Linked DNA regions of Homo sapiens. The protein of the gene in region 2 binds, or shares a complex with, the protein of the main gene of each other region. Each region holds a gene or a part of one and is shown on either strand. Other genes may lie near its edges. The genes, in order: E2F5, TFDP1, MYBL2 and E2F4.

The links.
Region 1: the proteins of TFDP1 (region 2) and E2F5 are in contact, whole or in part, in a crystal structure (PDB 5TUV), measured with the Homo sapiens proteins. Residues at the interface, in NP_009042.1 of Homo sapiens: Glu201, Cys202, Leu205, Glu208, Arg209, Arg212, Leu213, Arg215, Ile216, Lys219, Gln220, Leu223, Leu226, Ile227, Gln230, Phe233, Leu236, Val237, Arg239, Asn240, Arg241, Arg249, Pro253, Ser255, Val256, Ile257, His258, Leu259, Pro260, Phe261; in NP_001942.2 of Homo sapiens: Val126, Arg129, Leu130, Lys134, Glu136, Ile137, Leu140, Glu141, Glu144, Leu147, Asp148, Gln150, Lys151, Leu154, Gln155, Ser157, Ile158, Val161, Met162, Ile166, Asn167, Asn168, Arg169, Phe170, Ser171, Tyr172, Val173, Thr174, His175, Asp177.
Region 3: TFDP1 (region 2) and MYBL2 share a complex: the UniProt entries of both Homo sapiens proteins name them as parts of the DREAM complex.
Region 4: TFDP1 (region 2) and E2F4 share a complex: the UniProt entries of both Homo sapiens proteins name them as parts of the DREAM complex.

Annotation. Positions count from the first base shown.
Region 1 is NC_000008.11:85,172,698-85,180,168, forward strand, and holds the start of E2F5 (transcription factor E2F5), read left to right. Parts: upstream 1-4,456; 5' UTR 4,457-4,723; coding exon 4,724-4,957; intron 4,958-7,471.
Region 2 is NC_000013.11:113,587,750-113,594,779, reverse strand, and holds part of TFDP1 (transcription factor Dp-1), read right to left. Parts: intron 1-7,030. UniProt on the Homo sapiens protein: Can stimulate E2F-dependent transcription.
Region 3 is NC_000020.11:43,670,114-43,677,143, forward strand, and holds part of MYBL2 (myb-related protein B), read left to right. Parts: intron 1-3,692; coding exon 3,693-3,786; intron 3,787-7,030. UniProt on the Homo sapiens protein: Transcription factor involved in the regulation of cell survival, proliferation, and differentiation. Transactivates the expression of the CLU gene.
Region 4 is NC_000016.10:67,195,125-67,199,418, forward strand, and holds the end of E2F4 (transcription factor E2F4), read left to right. Parts: intron 1-657; coding exon 658-882; intron 883-2,474; coding exon 2,475-2,522; intron 2,523-2,742; coding exon 2,743-2,787; intron 2,788-2,883; coding exon 2,884-2,999; 3' UTR 3,000-3,794; downstream 3,795-4,294. Other genes in the region: ELMO3 (engulfment and cell motility protein 3), read left to right, coding at 4,203-4,280. UniProt on the Homo sapiens protein: Transcription activator that binds DNA cooperatively with DP proteins through the E2 recognition site, 5'-TTTC[CG]CGC-3' found in the promoter region of a number of genes whose products are involved in cell cycle regulation or in DNA replication.

The DNA.
Region 1 (7,471 bases), on a different chromosome or scaffold from region 2:
AAGATTCATAATCTTTGAAACATATCTTTTTTTTTAACATAGAAAGTGCAGAAGATAGATGTTTGTATGTTGCAAGGTTTTTTGTTTGTTTGTTTGTTTTTTTGACGGAGTTTCACTCTTGTTGTCCAGGCTGGAGTGCAATGGTGCGATCTCGGCTCACTGCAACCTCTGCCTCCCAGGTTCAAGTGATTCTCCTGCCTCAGTCTCCTGAGTAGCTAGGATTACAAGCGCATGGCAATATGCTCGCTAATTTTTCGTATGTTTAGTAGAGACAGGGTTTCACCATGTTGGCCAGGCTGGTCTCGAACTCCTGACCTCAGGTGATCCACCCACCTTGACCTCTCAAAGTGCTGGGGTTACAGGTGTGAGCCACCGTGCCTGGCCTGTATGTTGCAAGGTTTTGAAAGGAAAAATGGAAAACTGTATTTTATTTTCATTAACTTAGATTACAAGAAGAAGGTATTAGGGTTGATGTAGCAGTCTTTTGATGGAGATTTGTTAGCTCAAAGGGCATCTGAGAGTCTAAAGTTCCAACCATTCATGATCACCGAATGGGCTAATGCACTTAAAAAATCAGTCTGCATGGCCAGGTATGGTGGCTCATGCCTGTAATCCCAACACTTTGGCAGACCAGGGTGGGTGGATCACCTGAGGTCAGGAGTTCAAAACCAGCCTGACCAAAATGGCGAAACCCTGCCTCTACTAAAAAAACAAAATTAGCTGGGCATGGTGGTGCATGCCTGTAATCCCAGCTACTAGGGAGGCTAAGGCAGGAGAATCTCTTGAACCTGGGAAGCAGAGGTTGCAGTGAGCTGAGATCATGCCATTGCACTCCAGCCTGGGCAACAAGAGCAAAACTCCATCTCAAAAAAAAAAAAAAAAGTCAGTCTGTCATCATCAATAAACAAGTAAAATTTTGTTGGATTTTCTTAAATATTTAACTACCAGATTATGACAAAACTGTGCATATTTTAAATTGATCCTGAATCTCTATAAAAATGGCATTTGTGAAATTCCACAAATGTTAGATACTATAAGTTTAATGAGCTGTGGACTAAGAAATCATTCTGTTTTGAAATATTTAAGCCTTCCTTCTTAGTCCTGAACTAGCTAAGGAGCTGCACTTCCAAAATGCATTTAAAAAAAGAAAATTTAACCAGGGGCATATAAACAATATTATAATTGAAAATAGTATCTACCCAACTAATCAGCGTAAATTGAATTTAATGAAGGATTACTGTTATGCATTTATTACCCTTATAGGTCAATGAAATATAGTTTAGTTCAATTGGATTTTTTTTTTTTTTTTTTTTTTTAGGATAGATTCTCACTCTGTCACTCAGGCTGGATTGCAGTGGCAGGATGACAGGTCACTACATCCTTGACCTCTTGGGCTCAAGTGATCCTCTCACCTCAGCCTCTCTAGTGGCTGGGACTACAAGTGTGCACTACCACGCCCAGCTAATTTTTGTAGTTTTTGTAGAAATGGGGTTTTGCCATGTTGTCCAGGCTGGTCCTGAGTTCCTGGGTTCAGGCAATCCTCTTCTCTCAGCCCTCCAAAGTGCTAGGATTACAGACAGGCGTGAGTGCCCAGCCAGGCGTGAGCACTCAGCCAGCTTTGACTTTTGTTGGAAATAATTTTTAAGCCTTTGTCAGAAATGGCACAAAGAACTGATGTAGGAATTTACAGCCTTTTGAGAGTTATCTCCTTTATAGTCAAAAGGATACAGAAATAAAAGTTAAATTACAAAACTGATCAATATCATGTTCTTAAACATTATTTGTATCATAACTTTTAAAAAATCATGTTTCTTAGTTTTTTTAAAAAATAGAATTTTTAAAAACATTTAGCAATATTTAAAAAACTTTTGCATTATCAATCTCTGTTTTTTGTCGATTTTTAGGAAAAATATATATTGCATTATTTTTCATTGTGCTATTTGGCGTTTCTCAAAGAATGACTATGTTGTGCATGAGAATTATCTGAACTGTGAAAAATGTGGACTCACAGGTCATATTCTCATATCAAATGCTAATTTGATCCCTGGGGTTTGGATCCAAGCATCTAGATTTTTAACAAACATTGTAGATGATTTTTTCCCCTAAGGTCTGGGAACCACTGGTATAAGCGATTTTTAGCTCTTCAGACAGACATAAGATTTTGAATGCTAATTAAAATGGCTGCTAATTTGTGAATAATTTCTAATTGAACCCCAGGCAATCTAAAGAGATAAAAAATTCATTGTGAAAAACACAAATAACAGTGCAAAATAAATTGTTAATTGACCTTTTAGAATCACTAATAATATAATTGCTTTGTAGAAAACCTTTTAAAGCTGAAATTTAAAAAATATTGTTTTTAAAAATTACCAAGATAGCTACTATAAAATATGATTACATGCCATGGGATGAACTATATCTCCCCAACATTTGTATGTTGAAACCCTAACCCTCGGGCCTTTGGGAGGTGATTAGGTTTAGATGAAATCGTGAAGATTGAGCCCTCAGATGGAATTAGTGCCCTTATAAGAAATCTGAGAGCTTATGCTGTCTCTGTTCTGTCTGTCTTTCTCTCTCTCTCTGCCATTTGACACAATGAGAAAGCCACAATCTGACAGCCAAGAAGGGGGCCCTCACCACAACCTGGCCATGGCAGCCTCCTGATCGTCGACTTGCAGCCTCCAGAACTGTGAGAAAATTAATTTCCGTTAAGTCACCCAGTTTATGGTACTTTCTCAAACTAAGACACCATAGAAGTGTAAGTTTTAAAAATATTAATACATTTAGTGTTATTAATTCCTGTCCCTGCACATATAACACAATGTTCTGTTATAAAGTTAAAAACAAATTAGAATCTTCCTAATTCAGTATGTTCTAAGAAATACTACTTGACAATAATCAATAAAATAAATTTGCAAAACTTGTCAATGATGTGTCCCATGTCAAATCAAATAAAGATAGCCTTTCTTGGATAGGTTGTTGGAAAATGGTTGTATCAACTGAATTTTTCATGTTTTACTTCAGATTTTCAATTTTAAGTTTTGTTTATAGATTTGATTAAAATAAAGGTTATTATGAATAGGTTATTAATAAAGGTTATAAAGTTCTGTGCCTATGATGTGTTATAAATGGTGTGTTCAGCTTTACTAGTTAATGCTGTTGTATTTGATGTCGCTTCAGTGACCTTTTTTGTTAGTTTATTGTTACTTAAAATTAAGCAAAATCTTTCTTGCATGAAATCTTCTTGATTAATTATTGCCATATAGAATTTTCATTCACCTAATCTTTTTTTTTTTTATTTGAGACAGAGTCTTGCTTTGTTGCCCAGGCTGAAGTGCAGTGGTGGCATCTCGGCTCACTGCAACACTGCAACGTCTGCCTCCTGGGTTTAAGAGATTCTCCTGCCTCAGGCTCTGGAGTAGCTGGGACTATAGGCGGGCACCACCACCCCCCGCTAATTTTTGTATTTTTAGTAGAGACGGGGTTTTACCATGTTGGCCAGGTTGGTCTCGAACTCCTGATCTCAAATGATCTGCCTGCCTCGGCCTCCCAAAGTGCTGGGATTACAGGCGTAAGCCACCGCGCCTGGTCTCATTCGCCTAATCTTTATTGTCTACTATATTCAAAGTGTTGAGTGTGACAACAAGTCATTTAAAATTTAGTCTGGATTCTCAAGAGTTTGTAATATAATGAGGAAAAAATCCCAACGACTTTCTTTTACTCAGATCTCCATAATGTCATTTGCCATCAATAGTTTGGAATATCACTGAAGTCCAAGGGCCTGTGGCTACCCAATATTCCAAATACAATATAATTTGGTTCAAATAAGATATTAAGAACTTTGGTCAAGAACTTTGGTCAAACACAGGAGATCTGGAATCTAACGGCATGTCTTTGGCAATTCACAACCTCTCCCTCTACACGTTTCTCCATGTAGAAAGTAAAGGCCTTGGAAAGGATTGATGAAAACCAACCCTAAAACTCCACGATGCCTTTTTCTGTACTCCGAATCTAAAAGGGTGAGCTATGAAGTAAAACTCTGCACTTGGTCCAAGTCATTGAAATATTTGCAAACGATGCTAGAGCTCGAAAAGAGCAAAGATAGCAGAAACCGTCCAGAGAAAGTAACCTACTGCTGAAGCTCTGCAAACTTGAGCAGTCAACCAACTTCACCGCTCACAAACGTTTGGCCGCTAGGCATTGTGACTTTCTGCCCAGATAAAAGTCTTTTTTTCTTTTGTCTCCTTTTTTTCTTCCTCCCTGCTTTGCCGCGTGAGATTACCACTCCTCGGGTCAGCTCGCGAACGCCAGGGAGGCGAGTGTGAAACACACGCGCCAACACCCCTCCTCCTCCTCGTGCGCTCCTCCTTCCTACAGAAAAATGTGTTTCTAGGCAACGGCGGGCGGCGGCGTCACTTCCTGCCATTTAAACTCAGGTCCCCACCCCTCGCAGCCCCTTCTCCTCGTTTCCACCCCTCCCCCCTCGGTCGTGGGCCTCATTCACGCTTCCCCGGGCTTGGGGAGGGGGCGGAGGCCCGGCGTGACAAGCGGCCCAGACTCCCGTGGGCGCCGCACACCTGTTGTTTGCAGCAGCCAGCGACCCGCACTACCGCTCTCGGCGGGCGGGGAAGCGGCCGCAGCGGAGCCGACCCGGCAGGTGGCCGCGGGCGGGGCCGGCGAGCGAAAGTGCGCGGGGGCCCGACCACCGCGGGGCCGGGACGCGATGGCGGCGGCAGAGCCCGCGAGCTCGGGCCAGCAGGCGCCGGCAGGGCAGGGGCAGGGCCAGCGGCCGCCGCCGCAGCCTCCGCAGGCGCAAGCCCCGCAGCCGCCCCCGCCGCCGCAGCTCGGGGGCGCCGGGGGCGGCAGCAGCAGGCACGAGAAGAGCCTGGGGCTGCTCACTACCAAGTTCGTGTCGCTGCTGCAGGAGGCCAAGGACGGCGTTCTGGATCTCAAAGCGGTGAGCTCCGGAGGCGGGGACGGGGGCGGACTTCGGAACCCGTGGCCCCCGGGGAAGCCCAGCCCCTCGCCGCGTGGGTCTAGCGGCGTGGTGTAGACGCGCCTTGCGGGGACCCGGGACCGGGCAATCCGAGGACCATGTGGCCTGCGCCCGGGTCGTGGACGCCGGGATGGGGGAGGGACGAGGGACCAGGATGGCACCGAGCGGACGCGTAACCAATGGGGCCCGGCGCCACGCTGGGCTCTCGACAAAGAGCCCAGGACCTCGAGCGCGCCCGCGTGGCTTCTGTCTCCGGGCGCAGGGACCTGAGGGTAACCGAGTGTCTGTTGCTCTGCGTCCACCTGTGGCAGAGGCTCACGGGGTAACGGGCGCTTTGCCCGGAGACACCGTGGATATCGATTTTGCTGTTAAGAATGGATGGTTTTAATAGGCGATTCCAGTTGGAACCATGTTCCTGTAGTTTAAATAAAAAGGAGGAAAAACAAAACCCAGTCTGCCATCTCTACCAGATGAAAGAAAAAAAAAAAAGAGTACTTCTTTCCACGCCCCTCCCCGATAAAATAGTATTAAATCTTCCTTGTGCACTTCTTTCATCACCCTGATAGTTAGGAGGGGTATTTGATTTGTGACTTCATTTGGCATGTGTCATGGGTTTCCAAAAGTGAGATCTGCTGTCACACGAAAAGGGGATATTTTACAACTTTCACCCAAAGAGGTGGAAGTGCTCAGTAAACTCTCTCCCTGCGTCGTCCTTTACAGCGTTCAGATTTTTCAAACAGGAGCAGGCATCAAAAGCTGTTCTGTCATACAGAATGACTTAACCGATCTAGGAAGGATTTGGAAGAATTCAACAGCGCTCAGGATAATGAGAATGTGGTCACTCCGCGCGAAGTTTAAGAACTAAAGTTTTAGAAACAAACAAACAAAAAACACTAACTGCCCAATAATCACTGCAAATCCCCTTTGACTCCCTAAATGTGGCCTTACTTGGAGGATTGGCCCCAGCTCCCAGGGGAGTGCCTGGACCACCTTACCTGGCTTGAGAGTGTCACTGCATCCTCAAGGCTCTGCATAAAGCAGTGGCAGCTCCCTGAATGTAAGGACCAAGACTTGCAGGGGCCAACTCTTCTGCTAGAGGCCCTCCTCCAGTGTAGCCCAAGGGGAAGTAGATCTTTTCAGTGCCCTCTCCTTTCCCTGGATGTAGTTGGTGTTCAATCAGTGATTGTTGAACTGAATTACCTAAATTGTTCAACTTCATACAACTGAGGCATGCTGCACATATTTTGCATTTTGGTAAGTAATTTCTACTATTTTCTTTTTGATATGTTATTCCTGGAATTTTTTTCCCACCTCTGGAAATTCCTTGTTCTCTTTTTTCCACCACAGCCCCTTCTTCCTTTCTCTCCCTGAAAGTGATTTATGGCATGTGTAGTATTTAAATTGTAGTGAATTAAAATGGATTCTGTTTAAAGAATTTCACAGGAAGTCATGAAGTTATCAGAGAAAGCCAGGAATGTTACAAAGCACAGGTGGCAAACTGCTGTTCAAAATCTAGAAATTCAGCTGTAGCCTGTGACTTTGGTGTAAGAAAATCAGGGAAGTTTGGGGTTTTCCAGGTAAAACTGAACTCTGACGGCTGGACTTTGAGGGCTTCTCCCTCAGCTTGCCTCAGGATATGGTGGAACTTTGCCCTTTCTTGACTTGAAATTCTTTAGCTTCCTCCTGTTTCATCTGTGGCTATATAATTGCCCTACAGAAGTCACAGAGGCAGTGAGTAGGATGTAAAGTTTGGTATTTCATGACAATAATTGCTTTATTCATTCTGGAACTCTCCTAAAAATTCAAAGGTTTCTACAATAACACTGTCTCATTATATTAATGACTTCATACTCCTAGAAAAGAGTTTGAATGTCTTTAGTTTTCATATATATGTATGAAAAACATATGTTTTATGTATTTTACGTATATTTTTCATTTATTTATATATACTTATATATGTAAAAATCTTTTTTTTTTCTTTTTTGAGACGGAGTCTTGCTCTGTCGCCCAGGCTGGAGTGCAGTGGCGCGATCTGGGCTCACTGCAAGCTCCGCCTCCCGGGTTCACGCCATTCTCCTGTGTCAGCCTCCCGAGTAGCTCGGACTACAGGCGCCCGCCAGCGCACCCAGCTAATTTTTTTGTAATTTTAGTAGAGACAGGGTTTCACTGTGTTAGCTAGGATGGTCTCGATCTCCTGACCTTGTGATCCACGCGCCTCGGCCTCCCAAAGTGCTGGGATTACAGGCGTGAGCCACCGCGCCCGGCCAAAAATCTTACATTGAAATCTTTCCAATGATATTTCTTATTATACACCATAGTAAAAGATCGTTAAAGCCTTTTTTTTTTGAGACTGAGTCTTGCTCTGTCACCCAGGCTGGAGTGCAGTGGCAGATCTCTGCTCACTGCAACCTCCACCTCCCGGGTTCAAGCGATTCTCCTGCCTCAGCCTCCCAAGTAGCTGGGATTACAGGTGCC
Region 2 (7,030 bases):
AGTCTACTTAATGGATACAATTAAAAAGCAACTGCGACAGAAAAGCCCGCTGGTGCAGCAACCAGCACACGCAGGTCACTCAGTAACACAAGGATTCCATGTCCACTGGGAACGGGCGGCACCCACAGCCCAAGCCTGGGCACAGCTGAGGACCAGCACACGGGACACCTGTCACCTGGGCAGGGCTGAGGACTCATGCACACCACACCTATCACCTGGGCAGGGCAGAGGACCCACACACAGCACACCTGTCACCTGGGCAGGGCTGAGGACCCGCGCACACCATACCTGTCACCTGGACAGGGCTGAGGATCAGCACACAGCACACCTGTCACCTGGGCAGGGCTGAGGATCAGCACACAGCACACCTGTCACCTGGGCAGGGCTGAGGACCCACACGCATCACGCCTGACACCTGTGTATAGCTGAGGACGCGTGCACAGCACACCTGTCACCTGGGCAGGGTGAGGACCCACACACAGGACACCTGCCACCTGGACAGGGCTGAGGACCCACGTACACCACACCTGTCACCTGGGCACGGCTGAGGACCCGTGTACACCACACCTGTCACCTGGCTGGGTGAGGACCTGCACACAGCACACCTGTCACCTGGGCACGGCTGAGGACCCGCGCACACCACACCTATCACCTGGGCAGGGCTGAGGACCCACGTACACCACACCTGTCACCTGGGCACGGCTGAGGACCCGTGTACACCACACCTGTCACCTGGGTGGGTGAGGACCTGCACACAGCACAACTGTCACCTGGGCAGGGTGAGGACCCACACACAGCACAACTGTCACCTGGGCAGGGTGAGGACCCACACACAGCACACCTGTCACCTGGGCACGGCTGAGGACCCGCACACACCACACCTGTCACCTGGACAGGGCTGAGGATCAGCACACAGCACACCTGTCACCTGGGCAGGGCTGAGGACCCACACGCATCACGCCTGACACCTGTGTATAGCTGAGGACGCGTGCACAGCACACCTGTCACCTGGGCACGGCTGAGGACCCGCGCACACCACACCTATCACCTGGGCAGGGCTGAGGACCCACGTACACCACACCTGTCACCTGGGCACAGCTGAGGACCCGTGTACACCACACCTGTCACCTGGGTGGGTGAGGACCTGCACACAGCACAACTGTCACCTGGGCAGGGTGAGGACCCACACACAGCACACCTGTCACCTGGGCACGGCTGAGGACCCGCACACACCACACCTGTCACCTGGGCAGGGTGAGGACCCACACACAGCACACCTGTCACCTGGGCACGGCTGAGGACCCGCGCACACCACACCTGTCACCTGGACAGGGCTGAGGATCAGCACACAGCACACCTGTCACCTGGGCAGGGCTGAGGACCCGCACACACACCTGTCACCTGGGCAGGGTGAGGACCCACACACAGCACACCTGTCACCTGGGCAGGGCTGAGGACCTGCGCACACCACACCTGTCACCTGGACAGGGCTGAGGACCCACACGCATCACGCCTGACACCTGTGTATAGCTGAGGACGCGTGCACAGCACACCTGTCACCTGGACAGGGCTGAGGATCAGCACACAGCACACCTGTCACCTGGGCAGGGTGAGGACCCACACACAGCACACCTGTCACCTGGGCAGGGCTGAGGACCCACACACAGCACACCTGTCACCTGGGCAGGGCTGAGGACCCGCGCACACCACACCTGTCACCTGGGCAGGGCTGAGGACCCACACGCATCACGCCTGACACCTGTGTATAGCTGAGGACGCGTGCACAGCACACCTGTCACCTGGGCAGGGCTGAGAACCAGCACACAGCACGCCTGTCACCTGGGCAGGGCTGAGGACCAGCACACAGCACACCTGTCACCTGGGCAGGGCTGAGGACCCGTGCACACCACAACTGTCTCTTGGGCACAGCTGAAGACCAGCACACACCACACCTGTCACCTGGGCAGGGCTGAAGACCCACAGACACCACAACTGTCTCCTGGGCAGGGCTGAGGACCAGCATATGCCACACCTGTCACCTGGGCAGGAGGGGAGGGCCAGGGATGTGTTGGCAATGCTGGATTCTGGGCTGACCCATTCAGGTTTCTGACCCTCTCCTGCTTCCCCATTCACTGGAGCGGATCACACTGTCTCTTTTCCTCAGACCCCAGTGACGCGATGTTAATGAACAGAAGACCAGGGTGCACAGGGCAAGCACCTGTGTTAAAAGATACTGTATCCCAAAGCCACAGGGGACACACAAGGTTTTCATTCATCAGACCAGAATCCCTTAGAAACTGGACCATAGAAAAACAGGATTCATGGCCAGGCGCGGTGGCTCACGCCTGGAATCCCAGCACTCTGGGAGGCCAAGGCGGGCGGATCACCTGAGGTCGGGAGTTCAAGACCAGCCTGAGCAACATGAAGAAACCCCGTCTCTACTAAAAATACAAAAAATTAGCAGGGTATGGTGGCGCATGCCTGTAATCCCAGCTACTTGGGAGGCTGAGGTCAGAGAATCGCTTGAACCCGGGAGACAGAGGTTGTGGTGAGCCAAGATCGTGCCATTGCACTCCAGCCTGGGCAACAAGAACGAAACTCCGTCTCGAAACAAACAAACAAACAGGATTCACATAAAAGACTAACGGGAAGAGGCAGATATAACTCTTCATCCTTGAGTCTCAAAATTACCTGCAGCACATGTGAATAGTGCCCATGACCTGTGCGACAACTTAAAAGCCATAGTCCCTGTCCTCACAGGAGCCCTGAAGCGGAGTCGGGATGCTGCGGGAATCTCAGCCAGTCGGGAAAAAGGTACAAAGGGCGGATGCTTTTCCAGGCTTGGGCTACACACAAAGATACAGAGAGCAGTGCATGGCCAGTACCCGAACAACCAGAATCATCTGAGTAAGACACCTGGGGGATGAGGGGTCACCTAATTCAGCCTCTAATTCAGCCAACGCTGACATCTGCCCTTCCCCTCGCAGATCCATCCCCACACGTAGTCTAAGCCACCTGCTGCTACCAGTCCTCCTCTCTAAGCAAAACTTGACAAATCTAGTCTCTTATGACAAACAGCAGAAAGCCACACTGTAAGTCAAGCTAAATATCAACTGCAAATCTGGATTTTCTAATTGTTCTACAACAAAGTATTTTTTAATGTAAATACCAAGAGTGAAAAGTTTTTAACATCCCCTAAAGAGCACCTGATACTTCTACTGCAAATCGAGCTGTGCACCAAAGGTGAGGTTTCCAATTCTTACACAACGAACTCCAGAGATTTCTTCCAAATACCAAAAGTAAAGAGCTAACAAAGAGCTGATTATGTAAGAAAAAAGATGTCCTTTTTTATTCTTTGAATTTTATACCAGATGTTCCTATAATACCTCTTTTAAAGCATGTTTTAGGGGCAAAACTTTTTTCTTTTTTTTTTTTTTTGAGATGAAGTCTTGCTCTTGTCACCCAGGCTGGAGTGCAATGGCGTGATCTCGGCTCACTGCAACCTCCGCCTCCCGGGTTCAAGCGATTCTCCTTCTCAGCCTCGAGAGTAGCTGGGATTACAGGCGCCCGCCACCACGCCCAGCTAATTTCTGTATGTTTAGTAGAGACAGGGTTTTGCCATGTTGGCCAGACTGGTCTCGAACTCCTGACCTCAGGTGATCCACCCGCCTTGGCCTCCGGGATTACAGGCATGAGCCACCGTGCCCAGCAGGGGCAAAACTTTTAATTAACCTATAATTTTCTTTTTCTTTTTTTTTTTTTTTTTTTTTGAGACAGAGTCTCGCTCTGTCGCCCAGGCTGGAGTGCAGTGGCGTGATCTCTGCTCACTGCAAGCTCCGCCTCCCGAGTTCACGCCATTCTCCTAACTCAGCCTCCCCAGTAGCTGGGACTACAGGCGCCCACCACCATGCCTGGCTAATTTTTTGTATTTTTAGTGGAGAAGGGGTTTCACCCTCTTAGCCAGGATGGTCTCAATCTCCTGACCTTGTGATCCACCTGCCTCGGCCTCCCAAAGTGCTGGGATTACAGGCGTGAGCCACTGCGCCCGGCCCAACCTATAATTTTCTAATTTTTAATATCCCTTCAGAGTTTCTCTAACCTCATCCTATGTAGAAAAAAAAAATCCTGAAATATGAAAAGACTCTTGTAAAAACAAGCACGTCATCATAGATTTCTTCAACACTTAAACCTGAGGGGGCTAAACTGACAACCTTCTTAACCTCAAATGTAAAGTTGTTTCTTTATGAGGACAAAAGAAGGCCTGAGTCGCTGAATCCTGTTCCCAGAACTCACTCCTTCAAGCACTGAAGGAAACAGCAGTTTGTTGCTGCATCAGGTTCACCTCTTCAGGCCTGAACTTCACCATCCAGGTCTGTAAAAGGACACCTGGTGGTAGACCCTTAGAGGAGCTCATTGGTCCCCTCTTGGCATTAGCAGAGCCTCGTGACAGCATCACTCAAACGCCTCCATGGTGGGACGCACACAGTTCTCTTGGTCCCCAGCTCTCAATTTCAGGATTTCCCCATAAACTCACAGGACACAAACAGGCACCACAGAACGGCTTTCACAACCAAGGCACGTGAATACCGGGCAGTGACGTCCACAGCCACGTTCTCTGCACAGGGAGCTGACCAGGTCCAAGTGCCCGCACAGCCCAAGAGCGAGTTCAGATGCCCTGCATCTTTACCAATGGCAGGAGGAGCTTGGAGAGGCGAACGGGACCCCAGAAACAGCCCCACACGGGCTACATCCCGAAGTCTTACAGCAAAAGCATCCCTGTAATGTTTGATGAATTCATCATCTGCCTGCCTTCCCACTTACAAACTTTCATGACACTGGACAATCGTGTGTGACGACAGGATGTTCCGAGGTAGGGAGGGGAGAGGCAGAGCTCTGCCTGATCCCACCAAGGGTCATGCTGCCTGGGCAGGCAGGAAACTTGGCCGCAGGCTGAGATGCCAGTGCCAAGCCACACTCCCTCACCCAAGGGCCCTGCCAGCCCAGCTCTAGAACAACTTGAGCCCCTGCAGCTGGACTGACTCGTGACAAGGGTCTGTCCGACTCTAAGGAGGTGCCAAAGCACCTTCCAAGACTGAATCTGAGGACGGTTCCGAGCACCACCGGTACCTGCAACGGGAGCCCACAGATCTGCGGGTCAGAGCCACCCTGTTCAGGAACCAGAGGACAGCCTCCCTAGGCCCTGAGGCGGAGGGCCTGAGATGTTTCGAGGACAGTTCAGAAACTCAAAGAGTCTGTACGGACCTCCCAGGGTGTCTCCAAACTTAAGACAGGACTGCACCTGAGGCTATCACAGACCGGGTGGGCCAGGCATGGAAACAGACAGTCCCCACAGCAAGGAAATCCTCCCCATATTGCCAGGAGCAGCCCATAATCTTGATCATAAATTTCTGTAAGTGATCCATGCTATGCCAGCGCTCCTGCTGGGCAAGACCAGGCCTCAGGTTCCCGGAGCCAGCCAGGTGGCCGTATGGCAGCTGACTCCTGTTCTCCACATTCTCCCACTTAACAGAGTATAAACACAAATATTCCATTTGAATTTACCATTTTAATTCAAATAAGTGCAATAAAATAAAAAGTCCCTGAGCAAGACAACAGAAACCTAATCCTTCTCACCATTTCTCCAGCTGGGCCCACTCAAGGACCATCAAAGGCAGCCACCTTCTAGGCTGTTTCCTCCTTCTGTGACCCTACATCACCCACTCCAGCACCGCCACTCACTCTCCACCCACAACACCATCACCACACTCACTCTCCTCCAGTCTACCACCATCACCACTCACTGTCCACCCACAACACTACCATCACTCACTCTCCACCCACAACACCATCACCACACTCACTCTACCAACTCCACCATCACCACTCACTCTCCACCTACACCACCATCACCACTCTCTCTCCCCCAGTCCTACCACCACTCACTCTCCATCCAATCTACCATCACCACTCACTGTCCCCGAGTCTACCACACTCACTCTCCGTCCAATCTACCATCACCACTCACTCTCCACCACTCCAGCACCACCACTCACTCTCCATCAAGTCCACCACCACTCACTCTCTAACTACTACACCATCACTGATCACTCTCCTCACTGCTCCACAGTCATTTCCTACCCACTCTGCAAACTTTTCAGAGTACCTCTCTCCTCCCTCGTGTGTAGCTCCTTGCCATATAGACCTTCACACCCACTGCCTGTCAACTGCTGTTCAAAGATGACACCCCCAGAGGACTGACCTCATCCTCTTCTTTCTGCCCCTCACTCACATGGAGCCATTTGTGGCCTTTTCCCACCCGCTTGTCTCCCTGTGCCCTACTTGAGGTTGGAAGCTCCGGAGTTGTTTTTCTCTTGTGTTCTCTCCAGAACCTTCCAGCCTCAGGTCTTGGATGTCCTTGTTTCTCCTCCTCCATGGTGACTACCAGGGCCTAGCTCCAGCTCCCTGCATCCTGTGGCCCCTCATGGCCCTCTACAGAGGCCCCAGGGCACTTAGAAGCTGGAGGCCTGCCTCCTTCAACCCAAGTGGCACAGCTTTCCCCCAGCATAAAGGCTTTTGACATACACCTGTGGTTTTACTGCAGTACCAGTGCTTTTAAAAACCTAACTGGTGGGCTGGGCACAGCGGCTCACGCCTGTAATCCCAGCACTTTGGGAGGCCGAGGTGGGTGGATCCCCTGAGGTCAGGAGTTCAAGACAAGCCTGGCCAACATGGTGAAACCCCGTGTCTACTAACAAAAAATTAGCTGGGTGTGGTGGCGCGCCTGTAATCCCAGCTATTTGGGAGGCTGAGGAGAAGAACTGCTTGAACCCAGGAGGCCAAGGTCACAGTGAGCTGAGGTCGCGCCATTGCACTCTAGCCTGGGCAACAAGCAAAACTCCGTCTCAAAAAACAAAAACAAAACACCTAACTGGTTATCGATGTTCCCTTCTGCAAAAGCTGCCAACATCATCTTTTCAAAACTCAAATGTCACACCTCTACTTAAAAGAGTTAGCTAGGCCGGGCGCGGTG
Region 3 (7,030 bases), on a different chromosome or scaffold from region 2:
AAACAAACAAACAAACAGCATTGGAGCACCAGGGAGTGTCCATGCAGACATCATTTCATCCTTGAAAGAATATTTGCTGACCTTCTGTTAGAAGCCAGGCCTTTGTGCTGGATGCTGGAGAAGCAAAGATGGTTTCTGTCACGAGCTGTCTGGGGGCAGTTGATTTTAAAGCCAACTTCATTCTGTTATTAGTATCTTCTGGATTTTTGCCTTCTATATTGAAGTGGTGGAGGACCCATGAACTGGGTCAGGAATGAATTCCAGATCCTTCTGTATTGCTGACTGTAGACACCGTCCCTCCTTTCCTATTTCTGAAAATTTTTTTCTTTTGAAATTGGGTCTTGCCTGGCCTAAAAAATTTAATTAGTATTTCTTATTGACTAATAGGCAGCAGCTTTGCACATTTTTTCATTTATTTGTATATTCAGTCAGTCCCTGGGCAAACATTTCTTAAGCCCTTTTGGTGATAAACCCTGGGATGCCAAGGTGGAGCTGACCTTTGTAGATGATGTGGAGGAGACAGGCAGTTGCAGTGTAAGGGCCCGAGACAGGAGGGTTTCCCATGTGCTATGGAAGTATAGGAGTGACTCTAGGAAGCAACGGTGAGCTTTGGAGAACAAGGAGAAGGTAATGTGGATAGCACAGTAAGCCTTCTTTCATTTGTTTCATTTCCAAACAAGACTTGCCTTGTTTGGAAACCTGTAAGCTTTTTCCAGTTTACAAATGTCTGACCTAGCAACTTACCTGACCAACGTGACCTGATGCAGGTCCTGTCGGGTGGAGTTGGGGAAAGATTACTAACTTTCCTCAAGCACCTGACATCTCTGGAGGTGGATCCTATGATTTCTTTTTTTTCTTTTTTTTTTTTTTTTTGAGACGGAGTCTCCCTCTGTTGCCCAGGCTGCAGTGCAGTGGCACGATCTTGACTCACTGCAACCTCTGCCTCCTGGGTTCAAGCAATTCTCCTGCCTCAGTTTCCCGAGTAGCTAGGACTACAGGTACATGCCACCATGCCCAGCTAATTTTTGTGGGTTTTTATTTATTTATTTTTTTTGAGATGGAGTCTCGTCTGTCGCCCAGGCTGGAGTGCAGTGGCACAATCTCTGATCTCTGCTCACTGCAACCTCCGCCTCCTGGGTTCAAGCAGTTTTTCTGCCTCATCCTCTCGAGTAGCTGGGATTACAGGCGCATGCCACCACACCCAGCTAATTTTTTTGTATTTTTAGTAGAGACATCATTTCACCATGTTGACCAGGCTGGTCTCGAACTCCTGACCTTGTGATCCACCCACCTCGGCCTCCCAAAGTGCTGGGATTACAGGTATGAGTCACCGCGCCCGGCTGATTTCCATTTTTTTTTTTTTTTTTTTTTTTTGTGAGATGGAGTTTCGCTCTTGTTGCCCAGGCTAGAGTGCAATGGCTTGATCTTGGCTCACCGCAACCTCCGCCTCCCAGGTTCAAGCGATTCTCCTGCCTCAGCCTCCTGAGTAGCTGGGATTACAGGCATGCACCATCACACCCGGCTAATTTTGTATTTTTAGTAGAGACGGGGTTTCTCCATGTTGGTCAGGCTAGTCTCGAACTCCCGACCTCAGGTGATCTGCCTGCCTTGGCCCCAAAGTGCTGGGATTACAGGTGTGAGCCACCACACCTGGCCCGATTTCCATTTTTGTAACTATTAAACTGGATAAATACGAGGATTTTTTGGAGCAACTTGGAAGATTGCCTTGTAGAGTAAAAACACCCAGAATTCAAAGCAGCTCGTACTGTTTTTTTTTTTTCCCCTACAGCGGCGTTAGAAGATATTGTACACTGGGCCGGGCGCGGTGGCTCACGCCTGTAATCCCAGCCCGTTGGGAGGCCAAGGCGGGTGGATCACGAGGTCAGGAGTTCAAGACCAGCCTGGCCAAGATGGTGAAACCCTGTATCTGCTAAAAATACAAAAAAAATTAGCCGGGCGCGGTGGCAGGCGTCTGTAATCTCAGCTACTCAGGAGGCTGAGGCAGGAGAATCGCCTGAACCTGGGGGGCAGAGGTTACAGTGAGCTGAGATGTCGCCACTTCACTCTAGCCTGGGTGACAGAGTGAAACTCCGTCTCAAAAAAAAAAAATAGATACTGTACACTGATTTTTCTCTCCATTAATTATGCCTGTGTGTAGGCAAGGATTGAAAAGGGATTTGCAAAAATGGACATAAGCCAGACACGGTGGTGCACACCTGTAATCCAAGTTACTTTGGAAGGCTGAGGCAGGAGGATCCCTTGAGCCCAGGAGTTCAAGACCAGTCTGGGTAGCATACTGAGACCCTGTCATTACAAAAAAAAAAAAAATCAACACACGAAAAAACAACTTGGCCAGTCACAGTGGCTCAGGCCCGTAATACCAGCACTTTGGGAGGCCAAGGTGGGAGGATTGTTTAAGGCCAGGAGTTCCAGATGAGCCTAGGCAAAATAGTGAGATGTTTCTACAAAAAAATACAAAATAGCCAGGCATAGTGTCATATGCAAGTTGTTCCAGGTACTTGGGAGGCTGAGGTGGGAGAATTGGATTGCTTGAGCCTAGGAGTTGGAGGCTGCAGTGAGCTGTGATTATGCCACTACATTCCAGTCTGGGTAACAGAGCCAGACTCTGTCCCTAAAAGAAGAAAAACAACAAATGGACATAGAGAATATATTCAGAATTTTTTTTCCAAATAACTAATATCTCTTAAAATCTTGATGCCTGTTAACTTCATCAACTTTATTCCTTAAAATATCCATGCAGGTTTGTTACTGAAAGGAAAAAGCGATAGTCTGATTTTGAACATAATATTCTTGGTGAAATCTTAACTTTCTTTTTCCTTTTCTTTTTTTGAGACAGTCTTGCTTTGTCACCCAGGCTGGAGTGCAGTGACATGATCTCGGCTCATTGCAACCTTCACCTCCCGGGTTCAAGCAATTCTTCTGCCTCAGCCTCCTGAGTAGCTGAGATTACAGGCATGCGCCACCGCACCCAGCTAATATTTGTATTTTTAGTAGAGATGGGGTTTCACTGTGTTTGATCAGGCTGGTCTTGAACTCCTGACCTCAAGCAATCCACCCACCTCGGCCTCCCAAAGTGCTGGGATTACAGGTTTGAGCCACTGTGCCTGGCCTCTTTTTTTTTTTTTTTTACAGCTTTTGAAATCACTAGGGCATTCCTGAAAATAAAAAAGAAGAAAGTAGCTCTTAACCCTATTTCATTAAAAAATTTAAAAAGAGGTGAGGTCGGGTGTGGTGGCTCATGCCTATAGTCCCAACACTTTGGGAGGCCGTGGTGGGAGGATTGCTTGAGCCCAGGAGTTCAAAACCACCCTGGGCAATATGGTGAGACCCCGTCTCTACAAAAAATACAAAAGTTAGCCGGGCGTGGTGGCATACCCCTGTAGTCACAGCTACTTAGGAGGCTGGGGCGGGACGATCATTTGAGTCCAGGAGTTCAAGGCTGCAGTGAGCTACGATCATGCCACACTGAATTCCAGCCCAGTGACAGAGTGAGACCCTGTCTCAATAAAAATAAGTGAAGCAGAAGTGCCTATGTCTTAAAAAGAAGAAAAAGTAAGAGCCTCTCTCCCCCAGACCTTTCCCTAGGGTGGGCTGGCCGCTGCCTACACGTTCTCCATTATGTAAAACATATGGACACACCATCCTTGACCCTTGGCCTGCTTTCCCCATAGCGAGGATCTGGATGAGCTGCACTACCAGGACACAGATTCAGATGTGCCGGAGCAGAGGGATAGCAAGTGCAAGGTCAAATGGACCCATGAGGAGGTGAGTGCCATGGGGAAGAGAGGGTTGATGGCAGCTGGGGGCTGTCCAGAGGAACTGAGCCTGGAGTGTATTTGATGTCTCATCAGATGGGATGAAGAGGAGGAGCCGGTGAAGGAAGGGATGGGTCCTCTGATTGTCCTCATGCCTCTTCTCAGAGCATTCTGGGGGATTCTCAATTTTGAGGACTCAGTGGGTGGGAAGGGGATGTGTGTCCTAGACCTCAGGGCCCATTGTGTCTCCTGAGCAGCTGCCATGTTCTATGTCATGGACATTGATTGTGCTTTTTGCCTTTTGACTGCTAGGAGGTTTGGCCAAATCTGTAACTCCCCCCACCCTTTTTTTTTTTTTTTTTTTGAGACAGAGTTTCGCTCTTGTCACCCAGGCTAGAGGGCAATGGCATAATCTCAGCTCACTGCAACCTCTGCCTCCTGGGTTCAAGCGATTCTCCTGCCTCAGGTGCGATTACAGGCGTGAGCCACCACATCCAGCTAATTTTTTTTTTTTTTTGAGACAGTCTCGCTTTGTCACCCAGGCTGGAGTATAGTGGCATGATCTTGGCTCACTGCAACCTCTGCCTCCCAGGTTCCAAGCAATTCTCCTGCCTCAGCCTCCCGAGTAGCTGGGATTGCAGGCATGCGCCACCATGCCCAGCTAATTTTTTTTTTTTGTATTTTTAGTAGATACGGGGGCTTCACCATGCTGGCCAGGCTGGTCTCGAACTCCTGACCTCATGATCTGCCCGCCTCGGCCTCCCATAGTGCTGGGATTACAGGCGTGAGCCACTGCACCCGGCCTTAATTTTTGTATTTTTTAGTAGAGACGGAGTTTCACCATGTTGGCCAGGCTAATCTCGAACTCCTGACCCCAGGTGATCCACCTGCCTCGGCCTCCCAAAGTGCTGGGATTACAGGCATGAGTAACCGCACCCTGCCAACTCCCACTTTCTTTTTCTAAAATAATTAACTGTATTGAACCTTCTGACATCAAGCCCTGAATTGGTTTCCTTCTAGCTCCATCTTTTTATTTTATAATAAATGTGATTGAAATATAATTTATATGTAATCATATGCAATCAAATGCCCTTTTTTTAATTCCTTTTTGAGACAGGGTTTTTGCTCTGTCACCCAGGCTGGAGTGCCGTGCTAGCATGGCTCACTGTAGCCTCAACTTTCTGGGCTCAAGCAATCCTCCCCCGTCAGCCTCCTGAGTAGCTGGAACCACAGGCATGCGCCACCACGCCTGGCTAATTTTTGTATTTTTTGTAGAGACAGGGTCTCGCCATGTTGCCCAGGCTGGTCTCAAACTTCTAGGCTCAAGCATTTCTCCCACCTCAGCCTTCCAAAGTGCTAGGATTATAGGTATGAGCCACTGTCCCTGGCCAAATGCCCCTTTTTATGGTGAACAGTTTGATCAGTTTTTTTTCTTTTTTTTTTTTTGAGATGGAGTCTCTGTCTCCCAGGCTGAAGTGCAATGGCGTGATCTCCACTCACTGCAACTTCCGCCTCCTGGGTTCAAGCGATTCTCCTGCCTGAGCCTCCTGAGTAGCTAGGATTACAGGCACCCGCCATCATGCCCAGCTAATTCTTGTATTTTTGTAGAGATGGGGTTTCACCATGTTGGCCAGGCTAGTCTTGAACTCCTGACCTCAAGCAATCCACCCACCTTGGCCTCCCAAAGTGCTGGGATTACAGGCATGAGCCACTACGGTGAGCCGGTTTGATCACTTTTGACAAATGCATATACCAATGTAAGCACCACCCTGATTATCCCAAGAAGTTTTCTGTGGTCCTTTGTGGTCAGGCTTCCCCAGCTCCAGGAAATTGCTGATTTGATTTGTTTTGCCTTTTTCTTTTTGGGGGCTTTGTGTGTGTGTGTGTGTGTGTGTGTTGTTTTTAACTTTAGGTTCAGGGGTATATGTGCAGGTTTATTATATAGGTAAATTGCATGTCGTGGGAGTTTGATGTACAGGTTATTTTGTTACCTAGGTAATAAGCGTGGTACCCAATAGGTAGTTTTTTTTTTTTTAAGGCAGTCTCTCTCTGTTGCCCAGGCTGTAGTGCAGTGGTGTGATCTCAGCTCACTGCAACCTCTGCCTCCTGGGTTCAAGCGATTCTCCTACCTCAGCCTCTCAAGTAGCTGGGATTACAGGCACGTGCCACCACGCCTGGTAAATTTTTGTATTTTTAGTAGAGACAAGGTTTCTACTTGTCTCTACTAAAATGTTCACCAGGCTGATCTTGAACTCCTGACCTCAGGTGATCTTCCCACTTCAGCCTCCTGAAGTGCTGGGATTACAGGCGTGAGCCACTGCACCCAGCCCCAATAGGTAGTTTTTTGATCCTCATCCTCCTCCCACCCTCCACCCTCCTCCCACCCTCCACCCTCAAGTAGGCCCTGGTCTCCTTGTTCCCTTCTTCGTGTCCATGTGTATTCAGTGTTTGGCTCTTACTTATAGATGAGAATATGCGGTATTTGGTTTTCTGTTCCTGTGTTTGCTTAGGATAATATGTTTTGCCTGTTCTTGAATCTTCTATAAATGAAATCATACGGTTACATTCTTTGCGTCTGGCTTTTGCTCAGCATTGTGTTGGGTGATTCAGTAACTTGTCCTTTTCTATCACTGGATAGTAGTCCATTGTATGGGTATACCACACAGCGTTTCACCTGTTGATGGATGTTTGGACTGTTTGCAGTTTTTGGCTATCGTGTATAGCGCTACCTTGAAGATTCTTGCATAAGTCTTTTTGCAAATACATGTTTCCCTTTCTTTTGGGAAGATAGGTATGGTCATGGGGTAGGTGTATGTTTAGTTTTACAGAAACTGCCTTTTTCTTAATGGATTGTACCATTTTAGACTTCTACTGGCCTTTTTATTTTACCTCAGTTTTTCTTAGTGTCTTCAGTTCTTCAGTGTTTTTTGTTTTGTTTTGTTTTCAACCCATAGTTAACATCATAGATGTCTTTAATTTTAGGATTGGGTTTTTTTTTTTGTATTGTATTATTTGTATTGCTTTTGTTTTTTGTTTTTAAATAGAGAAGAGGGTCTTGCTATGTTGCCCAGGCTGGTCTCCTGGGCTCAAGCAATCTTCCTGCCTTGGCCTCCCAAAGTGTTGGGATTACAGGCAGAAGCCACCATGACTAGCTTGTTTTGTTTTTTCTAAAACTTGCTGTGTGAGTGGTAAACTCCTTTTAAATCATGAAAGATGTTTTTCCAGATGCGTGCTAAGCAAACCTTTTCTGCTCA
Region 4 (4,294 bases), on a different chromosome or scaffold from region 2:
AATGAGCCTTTTTTGTTTTTGTTTTTGAGACGGAGTCTCACTGTGTCCCCCAGGCTGGAGTGTGCAATGGCGCGATCTTGGCTCACTGCAACCTCTGCCTCCCAAGCTCAAGAAATTTTCCTGCCTTAGCCTCCTGAGTAGCTGGGATTACAGGCGCCCACCATGCGCAGCTAATTCTCGTACTTCTAATAGAGATGGGGTTTCACCATGTTGGCCAGGCTGGTTTCGAACTCCTGACCTCAAATGATCTGCCTGCCTCGGCCTCCTGTAGTGCTGGGATTACAGGCTTGAACCACCATGCCTGCCTGAATGGGCCCTTTTTAACAGGGAACCTCTGACTGTGGGAAGAGCCATTGCTGGTGGCAGTTTTCTCCCCCAGATCCACATCCACTGGTGTCTCAATTGCCCTGGTAGCCCGTCTTGAAGTATGGCCACAGCAGACATGTTGACCACGAGTCTTCTTCTGTAGGTCTTGTGTCCCTGTCTCCTGTGGTGACTAATTTCAGGTTACTTCCTCTGGGGGTGACTGGCAATGCCTAATTCTCCTTGGGTCTGGGAACCAGGCTTGTGGTCCTCCTGTGTCTGGGTTCCAGCACAGCCAGTTTCAACGACCTCTTCCTGACCTTGTATGACTGGGTTTGGGGGCTATCATTGTAGTGAGTGGCGGCCCTGGGACTGATAGCAAGGACAGTGGTGAGCTCAGTTCACTCCCACTGGGCCCAACAACACTGGACACCCGGCCACTGCAGTCTTCTGCCCTGCTGGACAGCAGCAGCAGCAGCAGCAGCAGCAGCAGCAGCAGCAGCAACAGTAACAGCAGCAGTTCGTCCGGACCCAACCCTTCTACCTCCTTTGAGCCCATCAAGGCAGACCCCACAGGTGGTGAGTACCTGCCCCCTGGGGGCAGAGAGAGAGAGTCTAGCCTCAGTCCAGTCCTAGGTCAGAAAACAGAATTGGGGATGGAACCCAGATCTCCTGTCAACCCTGCTGGACACGAGAGCTCTCTGCCAGCACCTCTGGGTCAGTGCTGGTGCCCCCTCTAGCACCCCATCCTAGGCTAACACAGAACTCCCTGCCGTCTCTCAAGCCCTTTCCTGCCACCCCTTGGAGCACCGCCTCACTAATTGACACTTCTCTGTATCACTCTCTCTCATCTTCTCTGTCTCCTTTCTGTCTGGACTCCTTGAAAAAGTAATCTCCATTCATTAGTCTCCTAGTCACCTTTCAGGTTGCAGCAGTCACCCCCCCAGCCCCAGTGTTACAGCGGTGTTACTCTTGAGAAGCTGCCGAAGGCCTGCCGAGCCCAGCAGCCTCCAGCGTGTTTTGCTGGTGCTCTCTTGGTCTGTGTCAATATTCTTTCCTCCTTTGGCATCATGATGCCAGCTTTTGGCTCTCCTATCTCACTGGCTTCTTGAACTCTTCCCTGGCGTGTCCTTAAACATTGCTGTTTTTGAGGGCTCTGTCCCATTCCACTCCTGGAGAGGGCTGCAGCTCTGGGTGAACGAATCCCCAGCCTCCGCCTGGCCTAGATCTTTTCCCAATCTGCACACTTCGGTGTCCACCTGCCGTCCTGTGTACATCCAATGGACACTTTATTCCTGCATGTCCTCAACTGAACTTAGTTTCCTCCCGAAGCTTGCTTTCCACCTCTGCGCACCCAGCCGTCAGCCCTAGTTATCCAGGCCTGACCCTTGGCTCTCACTCTAGTTCTAGTTCCTTATCCCTCCTCCTTCTGCTGCCCACCCCATGCCAGCTAACTGAGGTCTGTCCCAGATGTCCCCTCCTATCCTCTGGTATCCTCAGCACTCAGGATGACCCCTGGCCACCTCTGTCCTGGATTCTTCAGCATCTTTCTCTTTACCCTGACTGACAGACTAATCTTTCTGAAATGCAGGCCTGACAGAAAAATGTGGCATTTCTCTGTTTGCAAAAGTACCTTTAATGGCTCCTTGAGGGCCACCAGATAAGATCTGAACTCCTGAGCCTGGCATGTGAAATCCCTCATAGTCCTCTCTGGTTGCATTTTCTTCTGCTTCCCCTGTGTCCTCCTGGCCAGAGGTTTGTAGTGGAGTCATCACCCTGTAGCGCCACCACCTCTGCCTGGTGACCTGACCCAGGGTCTGGTCTCAGTCTTGCACAGAGCAGGTGCTCAGCAAGGGTGGGACAGATGGGGTACCTTCTGTCAGACAGGGGGTGCATGCTGAGCCCAGAAAGAGGCTTCTGTGGCCTTTCCGAGTTAGAAAAGCTGTACCAATCGCTTGCAGGGGGCCTTTGGTACCCTGGGCTCAGCACTGAGGAATTCAGGTTTAGCAAGTGAGGCCAACAGACAGTGCCAGCTTGGCCTAGGCAGGACCTACATCTCCTTAGCTGTGTGGAGCCTCAGGGTGGGTGGTATAGGATCCGAGGAAGCCAGGGGGCTGTAGTGGGGCCAGGCTGGACCTCTGTGCCCTGAGCATGGCTTTCTTGTTTTTCAGTTTTGGAACTCCCCAAAGAGCTGTCAGAAATCTTTGATCCCACACGAGGTAGGCTGCTGCATTCCTCCCTGAGGCTAGGGGTAAGGGACACAGCTCATTGGGTCCTATGGCTGTTTTCTTGCCCTTTTGAGGACCTTGTTGTGGCGCTTATGGTAACTGGGGCAAAGGGTGAAGTTCCTGATGGGCAGGTGGGGTTCCCTTTCCTGGGCTTTGGTGGGTGGAGAGGTGGGAGCTGGAATGTTAGTAACTGAGCTCCCTCCATTCCCAGAGTGCATGAGCTCGGAGCTGCTGGAGGAGTTGATGTCCTCAGAAGGTGGGTGGCCCTGGAAGGTGGGAGTGGGTGTGGGCAGGGGTTGGGCTGCTGCTAGGGGAGCCCTGGCCCAGGGCCTGAGACTAGTGCTCTCTGCAGTGTTTGCCCCTCTGCTTCGTCTTTCTCCACCCCCGGGAGACCACGATTATATCTACAACCTGGACGAGAGTGAAGGTGTCTGTGACCTCTTTGATGTGCCTGTTCTCAACCTCTGACTGACAGGGACATGCCCTGTGTGGCTGGGACCCAGACTGTCTGACCTGGGGGTTGCCTGGGGACCTCTCCCACCCGACCCCTACAGAGCTTGAGAGCCACAGACGCCTGGCTTCTCCGGCCTCCCCTCACCGCACAGTTCTGGCCACAGCTCCCGCTCCTGTGCTGGCACTTCTGTGCTCGCAGAGCAGGGGAACAGGACTCAGCCCCCATCACCGTGGAGCCAAAGTGTTTGCTTCTCCCTTTCTGCGGCCTTCGCCAGCCCAGGCTCGGCTGCCACCCAGTGGCACAGAACCGAGGAGCTGCCATTACCCCCCATAGGGGGCAGTGTCTTGTTCCTGCCAGCCTCAGTGTCTTGCTTCTGCCAGCTCCTTCCCCTAGGAGGGAAGGGTGGGGTGGAACTGGGCACATGCCAGCACCACTTCTAGCTTCCTTCGCTATCCCCCACCCCCTGACCCTCCAGCTCCTCCTGGCCCTCTCACGTGCCCACTTCTGCTGGGCCTTTAGCCCTAGAACCTGCAGGTGGTGGGGGCGGCTACCAAGAAGGAACAGAGGTCTCTGGGGAGGAGTCTGGGTGGTCCAGCCCTGATGATTGGCCCCACCTCCTGCTGCCCCATAACCCTCTCTTCATTTCGGCTTTTTCATTTACCCTCATTTAGAGCCATTTGCAGAGATTTAGAAAGATTTACAGTAACGAATGGATTCCTATATAAAGATTATTTTTATACTTTTTGCAGCAAAAGGAAATTGTAATATTTGTACAGTGTTCAAGTGAATAAAAACCATGCCTAAGGCTAGCTCTGATGTGGTTCTTTGGGGACCCTCCTTGGGACTGTGCTGGACTGGCAGTGTGATTGGGTGGGTCACCTTGCTGGAACTAGGGGTGGGGCGGCCTCCGGCAGCCTGCCCTCCCCGCCCCCACCTGCCGCACCTTGGTGTGGGGCGGGGCCGCCTCGGCGGGGCGGGGCAGGCGGAGCCGTCCTACCTTCCTACCCCCAGACTCCAACCCGGAACTAACCTCGGCTCCCTTGGGAAGGCCGCGTTGCATGGCCAGGAGCAGCAGTCTGGGCCGCGAGTGCGGGACACCGAGGTCAGGTCTCGGAAAGGGAGGACCTCCTCGTCCCCAGGGGCCCCAGGCCAGGTGCACCCTTGGCCGCAGGTGCACGGTCTCCGGAAAGTGCAGGCGCCCACGTCCCAGCTGGACCATGGCGCCTCCGCGGAACGTGGTGAAGATTGCCATCAAGATGCGTGACGCCATCCCGCAGCTCATCCAGCTGGACCAGGTCACCCGGCTGGT